Linked DNA regions of Homo sapiens. The protein of the gene in region 2 purifies or fractionates together with the protein of the main gene of each other region. This does not show direct contact. Each region holds a gene or a part of one and is shown on either strand. Other genes may lie near its edges. The genes, in order: RPIA and TRPV5.

The links.
Region 1: the proteins of TRPV5 (region 2) and RPIA purify together in Homo sapiens (affinity purification with mass spectrometry; 2 studies listed by BioGRID and IntAct, with this or other methods). This does not show direct contact.

The regions. Positions count from the first base shown.
Region 1 is NC_000002.12:88,690,173-88,693,772, forward strand, and holds the start of RPIA (ribose-5-phosphate isomerase), read left to right. Parts: upstream 1-1,500; 5' UTR 1,501-1,526; coding exon 1,527-1,811; intron 1,812-3,600. UniProt on the Homo sapiens protein: Catalyzes the reversible conversion of ribose-5-phosphate to ribulose 5-phosphate and participates in the first step of the non-oxidative branch of the pentose phosphate pathway.
Region 2 is NC_000007.14:142,931,363-142,935,482, forward strand, and holds the start of TRPV5 (transient receptor potential cation channel subfamily V member 5), read right to left. Parts: upstream 2,385-4,120; 5' UTR 2,098-2,384; coding exon 1,970-2,097; intron 1-1,969. UniProt on the Homo sapiens protein: Constitutively active calcium selective cation channel thought to be involved in Ca(2+) reabsorption in kidney and intestine. Required for normal Ca(2+) reabsorption in the kidney distal convoluted tubules.

The DNA.
Region 1 (3,600 bases), on a different chromosome or scaffold from region 2:
CGAATGATGGACGGAAGTTCTGTGATAGAAATACAACCATGCGCAAAGTGATAGAGGAGGGGTGGGCAGGAAACCCAATTTAGATGAGGTGGTCACTTAGACTTCTTTGGGAAGGTGGTATTTCAGCTGAGTCAGAAGGGTGGATGGAGCAAGCAATGCACAGATGGCCAGGCTGGCAGGTAGAGCATTTAAAATGGTTCAAAGGTCCTCAGGCCGGGGGTAATGGGGTAAAGCAGAGACTAGGTAACATTTACTTCATGAATCTTTTGGTGTGGGTGCTGAGGAGCATGAATAAGGTGAAAGACTCCTCCTAAGGAGATACATTAAAGGTGACATATTTGCCTAGAGTAGCCTTCAACTTTGCAGACCAACAGTAGTGGGAGTCCAGACATACTGTTCTGCATGTTAGCCAGAACCTTTTGCTATGTTCTGAATTTGGCCTAAAATGAAGGATTCAAATATCATCTCAAACAACTTTTCCTCCTACAGACTAAGGTGAAGATTCAAGAGCTCACGGCCTCAGAGGGCAAAGCATAGTTAAGAAAATCTAGGTGATAACCGGCAGTTAACAGTGGCCCATACCAGTGACTTGCGCTCACGGAAGAGTTCTGAAGGCCTGGAATGCGTTTGAAGATGAGTTCATGAGCAGACAGAAAGGATTCCACTAACAGCCGAGAAACACAAAGGTCATGTGTTTTTAGGGACCTCCAAGTGGTCGGTAAGGTTGGGGTCAGCATTAGTTTCTTTGCCTGTAAAATGGGGGCAATAAGAATTCCTCGTCCCTTAACTATTCTCAACAGCAAGAAACCTTAAAGGTAGAGAAGAAAAGATAAATCTGTTTTCACAGAAAGTCCTTGTTAGTCACGAAGGATTGCAGGATCGCTGCAGGGCACACTCATATGTGCAGAACCAGTCTCCAAATGGGCGGAGCAAGGTGCAGCTCCACCTGCTTCACCACTAGGTGCAGAAGAATGTCCACGGCAGGGGGTTCTCAACTTGTGACCTTGGGTCTGCGGGGGTCTAGATGGACTTCAGCTGGCGCCGTGTCGCATGTGAGTTTCCTGGGCTGTAGTAACCCCAAAAGGGCCGCGTCGTCTACAGAAGTGCCACTACTTGGAATTCTTGTCCATGGCCACGTTCTCACTGCTGGGAGAAACAACAGGGTCAGGTCTAACACTCCTTTCTCGGATGCATGGGCGAACAGAAATATCCCTGGGCTTCACCTAGCCGTGGCCTAAGTACACTTCCCCAGGGTAAGGAGTCACCATACTGATATTCCCGCGGCTAATGGTACTTCACAGAGCGAAGTGCCGGAGCCCGTCGCCGGCGATTGCGCATTCCGTCGCGGAGAGCATTATGGGATTGGTAGTCCAGACTGAGGCGCAGATAGGGGTTCCTCGAAGCCACAGAACTACATTTCCCAGCAAGACCCGCGCAGCAGGGCACGCAGACTGTGTGCGTAAGCGACCAGATTTCCGGGGGAGCCGGGGGCGGGACTTCAGCGGAGGCCGGAGCGAGGCGTCGGGATGCAGCGCCCCGGGCCCTTCAGCACCCTCTACGGGCGGGTCTTGGCCCCGCTGCCCGGGAGGGCCGGGGGCGCGGCCTCCGGCGGAGGAGGGAACAGCTGGGACCTCCCGGGTTCCCACGTGCGGCTGCCGGGGCGTGCACAGTCTGGGACCCGTGGCGGTGCTGGCAACACAAGCACCAGCTGCGGGGACTCCAACAGCATCTGCCCGGCCCCCTCCACGATGTCCAAGGCCGAGGAGGCCAAGAAGCTGGCGGGCCGCGCGGCTGTGGAGAACCACGTGAGGGTGAGCACTTCGAAACGTGGGGCGCGGGGCGCATGTCCTTGGCGTGATGGGCTACTGTTGCGCGTTGTGGGTGCTGCCGGGGCGCGCCTAGCTCCTGGCAGGGCGGGAGCTGAGTGAGAGGGTAGAGGGTGTGCACTTTACCCGAGTTTAGACCCCTCTTCCCTGCTCCTTAAAGACCTTTTAGATGTGGAATCGGTTGGGGGCGAATCTTCTAATACTTGAGCTTTCTAAAGACTCCTTGTCCAGCTGGAACAGTTTGCAAAGTGGAGCCTGGTGCTGTCTGATGTTTGGAATGGGGGCTAGAGGCACTTGCCTTGTGGCCTCCTTATCAATAAATGGAAAATGGTGGGCTTTGGGGCTGCGGAGAGGTTTTCATTTCTCTTTACTGACCCGGAAGCCGGCGGAGAGTTGGTTTGCTAGTGCTTTGAAATTTCAGTCGAAGGAGGTTCTGGGCTTGGTGCGCGCCGGCCCCTGAGTGTACTCTTGGAGGGAAGGGAAGACCCGGGGCTTCAAACTTCCTTCTTTCCATAGGGCTGGGTGGACTAAGTCTGGAGGATGCTGGTTTATTTTTTAAGGCGGGTCTGCAGAGATGTTTAGCTGTTATTCAGTCAGGTCGTGGTCCCTACTTGTTTGTTAAGTGGCAGGTGTGGTGCTGTTAGTGGAGTTTTTTTAATCCAAGTGGTTTTGCTGTCACCAATCAAGTATCTTAATTATAATAAGGAAGCCAAGTGGAGTATGTCTGCCCTGTGGTGTAGTTTCCTTGGTCTTATTGGCTTTTTATCTCTCGTTTCTACTTATTAGAAAGTGGTATTAGAGTCTCTTTTCTTCTCCGATAATAGTTCTTTACATTTGTTAATGCTTTACAAAATTATTTTGCTTAGATGATGTTGGATGAGCTTCACCACAGCCTGTTTGAGTGGGAGTGGACAATGTGGTAACCTGTGGCTCAGCCAGTTCTGTAGAAGGGATGTTCCAGTGTGACCTTCTACTCTTTCCACTGCTACCCTGTTCTGGTGTAGCTTGTTGTAAGTCTGATTGGCAATAGGATTTTCTATGGGGATTAACAGAGATAATGTAAAATGTGTTAATTTGACCCTACCTTTGGGATTCAGTGCCTCCGTTGTAAAATTGAGACAATAAGCTGAAATTTCAAAATATCTGCATACAGTGAATAGCTAATAGATAAATGTAATCCACATGAGAATACAATTAGAAAAGCCCCATATCTAAGTTGTCCTGTTAATGAATTTACATTAATATTTGGTGGCGCATCTCCCTGACCTTTGTGTTATAGTCATGTATTTGATTAAATAAAAATCTGCAAGCCCTGACCTTAGGCTAGAGCCCCAAAACACTGGATTCTGACCACATCATTTCATGAAGTTAGGTAATTTTGGGGAGATCTACAGTGACCTTTTGGGGGCACCTGTTAAAATCATATATGCCCTTCAGGGTTTGGCTTAAAGGCCATTTCCTCCTTTCAGTTTTTCCTTAGCATCCTAAGGAGAGGAAGATTTCTCTTCCGTGATTCTGTAGCACTTCATGCCTCTTATGTGCTTTATGTTGTATCTCATGTTTTGGTCATCTGTGTGTTCGTTTCTTCCAGCCCCTTAAAGGGTAAGCTCCTGGAGGGTAGTTAACCTTCATTTAGCATTGGTCACAGTGGGTCCTGCCCAGTACATGTTTGTTCAATTGTGTGCAGTGTGGACACAAATACGAAAGTGTTGGGGTTATTGGAGGTTCTTTGTGTAGAATCTCTGGGGAGTAGGGCTTCCTGTTCTCTAGTCCA
Region 2 (4,120 bases):
GTGAGTTACAGGGTGCCTCTTTCTTCTGCATTATACCCTTAGATGCAAAGGTCTAAACAGCTTGTTTATGTGGGTGTCTCAAGGCAAAACAGGTTGAGATACTCATTCTACAGGACCTCTGTTAATCTTTGCTTCTACCATACCCAGATTTGAACCCAGAAAGAGATAAAGCTGGAGCCTCTCCAACTAGACATATGTGTATTGGCCCCAAAGGCAAGCACATGGTGTAGGGGGAAGAACAGAAAGGACAGGCCGATGAGTGGCTCCTCTGAGGTCCCCACCTCCAAATCCCTCTCTTCCAATAGCCCCAGGAGCCAGGGCGAAAAAGTGTTTTTATTTTATTTATTTATTTTTTTTGAGACGAAGTCTCACTCTATTGCCCAGACTGGAGTGCAGTGGTGCGATCTCGGCTCACTGCAACTTCCGCCTCCTGGGTTCAAGTGATTCTCCTGCCTCAGCCTCCCGAGTAGCTGGGACTACAGGTGCCCACCACCATGCCTGACTAGTTTTTTTATTTTTGGTAGAGACGGGGTTTCAGCATGTTGGCCAGGCTGCTCTCGAACTCCTGACCTCAGGTGATCCACCCATCTCGGCCTCCCAAAGTGCTGGGATTACAGGTGTGAGCCACCACGCCCAGCCAAAGTGTTTTCATTTAAAGAAGAAGCTTTTAATCTAAAGGTGGGGCCTGGTTTTACCTGTTAAGGCAGTGCTCCTAGGAGGGGCCTTTGTGAGGAGTCAGTTCCCTGCCCCGTCTCACCCAGGGAATCAGTCCCAGGGAGCCTGGTGTCCCTGACCAGCCTAGAGTGGTCAGGGCTGAGATTGCAAATTCACCCCCATCCTGAGGCCACTGCACAAACAAAGTCCTTGCCTCCCTGGCCCTCTATCCCCACTGCCCCTCTGCAGAGGGTCCAAGTTGGGGCTGGAAGCTCACTTTCTCAGAGACCCAGGGGTCCCACTCTAAAGCAGGAAGGTGAGATTCCACTGGAGGTATTGGGTGGGGAGATGAGGAAGCAGAGGGCTTGACAGTATGAGGGCTCAGAGGTACTTGGGACCAGGCCCAGTGTAAACTGCAAATGCAGGACCCCTTGTTCAAAATTATTAAGAACTTGAAGATGAGGACAGCAGGGCATTGAACAAAGCACAGGAATCTTCTGGAGTACAGGGGAGCCCTTTGTGACTGCTAATGTCTGCTCAACAACCTCACCCCTCAGGCAGCTGTTGGGTGGGAGGCAAGCCCCAAAACACTTGGAGGAAGAAGCAGCCCACAGGATTCGTCCCTGCCCCAGCTGCTCTTCCTGGGACTGGACCTCAGGGCTAAGCCATGAAATGATTTACCTGCAGGTGTGCTAGCCCTGCCCGAACTAAGAGCTCTCCAGGAGCAGGCACAAGTCTCATTCAATCTTTATGTCATTGGGATCTAACACCCCTCTGCACACAGTAGACTCAATAAAAGGCAGATGGACTGAACTCAGAGCCCTCCAGTGTCACCTGAGCTGCCCTCCTCCACTGGTCAGCACCCAGTGTTACACCAAACAAAGCGCTCCTCCCCTTTCCCACACAGTCCACTTTCATTCAAATGAATGGCGTTTCCTTATCGTGCTTCCACCACCCACAGGAGTGCATCCCTTCTTCAGCAGCCTGCTTCTGCCTTCCCTCCCCATCCCACACAACCTGGCTTCTTCCCTCTGGTCCTTTTTGGTCCTTTCACTCCCCCTTGGCTGTCATTCTGCCTCTGTCCTTAGGTCTACCCTCAAGATTTTCCTGTGTGGCCCAAAGCCACATCCTCCACCGCCACTAAAAGGGGCCAGCTGGGATTCTGTAATTAGGTGGGCTGGAAGGAAAGGGTATGTCTGAGTGACTGGCACTGACAATACACTTCTAGGGTGCTGTATTCGGAAAGCAGGCCCAGGTGGGTCAGAGGGTCTGAGGATCACGGCGGTAGGGCCACGGATCGTTCTAGGAAGCCTACCTCTTCTGCTGCAGCATATGAAGCTTGTCCAGGTGCTGGTCCCAGTCTTGTTCTCTGACCAGAAAGGAGGGCAGAAGTTTCTGGAGTTGGCTCCCGGGCCCTTCTGCCTTAGGTAGAAAACCCCCCATGTCTTCTCCTTGCAGACACTGGCAGATTATAGAAATGTGGCGAAAGAAACAGGTCTAGGATGACAGCAACTGAGCAAGAGATGGGGTCTATTTGGGGCTGGGACTCTGAGTTTATCTCCTGTATGACTTGTGTATGCAGCATGCAGCTTGTAGGTGTGTGTGTGTGCATGCAGTATGTGGGTTGTGGGGTGTGCGTGTATGCACAGTGTGTGGCTGTGGTGTATGTGTGTGCATGCAGTGTGTGGTTGTGAGGTGGTGTGTGTGCATGCAGGTGCGCTGAGGGGACTGACCGCCCTGCCTGGGGAGAAGTGCTTTTCCTGGAGGGGGAGGAGCTCTTTGCAGAGCTGAGCCCCACAGCCACAGAACCACCCTGGGGAAGAAAAGGAGGAGGGGAAGGAAGGTTCCTAACTGTGGGCTGGGATGGCTGAGACCCGAGAAGCTAAGAGGTGGGGCAGAGGAATTTGGAAAAAGAAAAGGGATGGAAGGTGGGTCCACAAACAAGGTGCACAGTTAGTTGCATGAGGGAGAGGAGGAAATAAAGACTTCCAGCTCAAGAGTCAGGCAGAGCCTGGTTCAAATCCTGACTCTTATCCCTTACAGTTAGGTGAGCTTTCTGAGCCTCAGTTCCTAACCTGTGAAATTGGGGTAACGGCTATGCCGTCTCACGGGAGCATCTGTAAAGCATGTGTCACAAGTACTCAATCACTGCCGATCCTCCTTCCACAAGAGGGCTCAAGAGACCCCCGGGCTGCTTCTCAGAGCTTCCCATTTATGTGTCTTGTGGTCATCTCTGTCCTCAACCCTGTACCTCAAAGGAGGGTTTCTGACCCCCACTTCCCAGGCCAATCCCTCTCTGTGAGAAGTCCTCATGACCGTGACCGGCCAGCTTCCTGGAGCGTCGCCGAGCAGGCTCTGGTACCTGGGGACGCAGGTCAGAGGAGCCCCCAGGGGCCTCGAGTTATTATGGAGGTTGAACAGCAGAAACTGAGCAAAGGTAGACGACAAATAAATCGTGATTCCATGTTTGGGACTCTTTCCAGGAATGAAACACCAGGAGGAATAAGTAATGTTGCACTATTTTATATATTTTATATTATATTTTATATATTAAGTAGTTTCCCTTATCCACAGTTTCACTCTCTGATGGTTCAGTTACCTAAGGTCAGCCACAGTTGGAAAATAGGTGAGTACAGTACTATAACATATTTTGAGAGACAGAGAGAAAGAGAACATTCACATAACTTTATATTATTATAATTTTCATTTTATTGTTGTTAAACTCTTTTTTTTTTTTTTTTGAGACAGAGTTTCACTTTCGTTGCCCAGGCTGGAGAGCAATGGTGTGATCTTGGCTCACTGCAACATCCACCTTCCAGGTTCAAGTTATTCTCCTGCCGCAGCCTCCCTAGTAGCTGGGATTACAGGTGCCCACCACCACGCCTGGCTAATTTTTGTATTTTTAGTAGAGACAGGGTTTTACCATGTTGGCCAGGCTAGTCTCGAACTCCTGACCTCAGGTGATCTGCTTGCCTCGGCCTCCTGAAGTGCTGGGATTACAGGCGTGAGTCACTATGCCCGGCCTAAACTCTTCACTGTGCCTAATGTATAAATTAAACTTCATCATATGTATGTATGTATGTATGTATGTATGTATGTATGTATGTATGTATGTACGTGTAGGAAAAAAGATAGTATATACAGGGTTTGGTGCTATCTAAGGTTCCTGGCATCCACTGGGGCGTCTTGGAATGTATCCCCTGAGGATAAAAGGTGACTACTGTATATGATAGCTTGTATTTATGTTCTCATTTTTTTTATTATTATACTTTAAGTTCTAGGGTACATGTGCACAATATGCAGGTTTGTTACATATGTATACATGTGCCATGTTGGTGTGCTGCACCCATTAACTGTCATTTACATTAGGTATATCTCCTAATGTATCCCTCCCCCCTCCCCCAACCCCACGACAGGTCCTGGTGTGTGATGTTCCCCTTCCTGTGTCCAAGTGTTCTCATTGTTC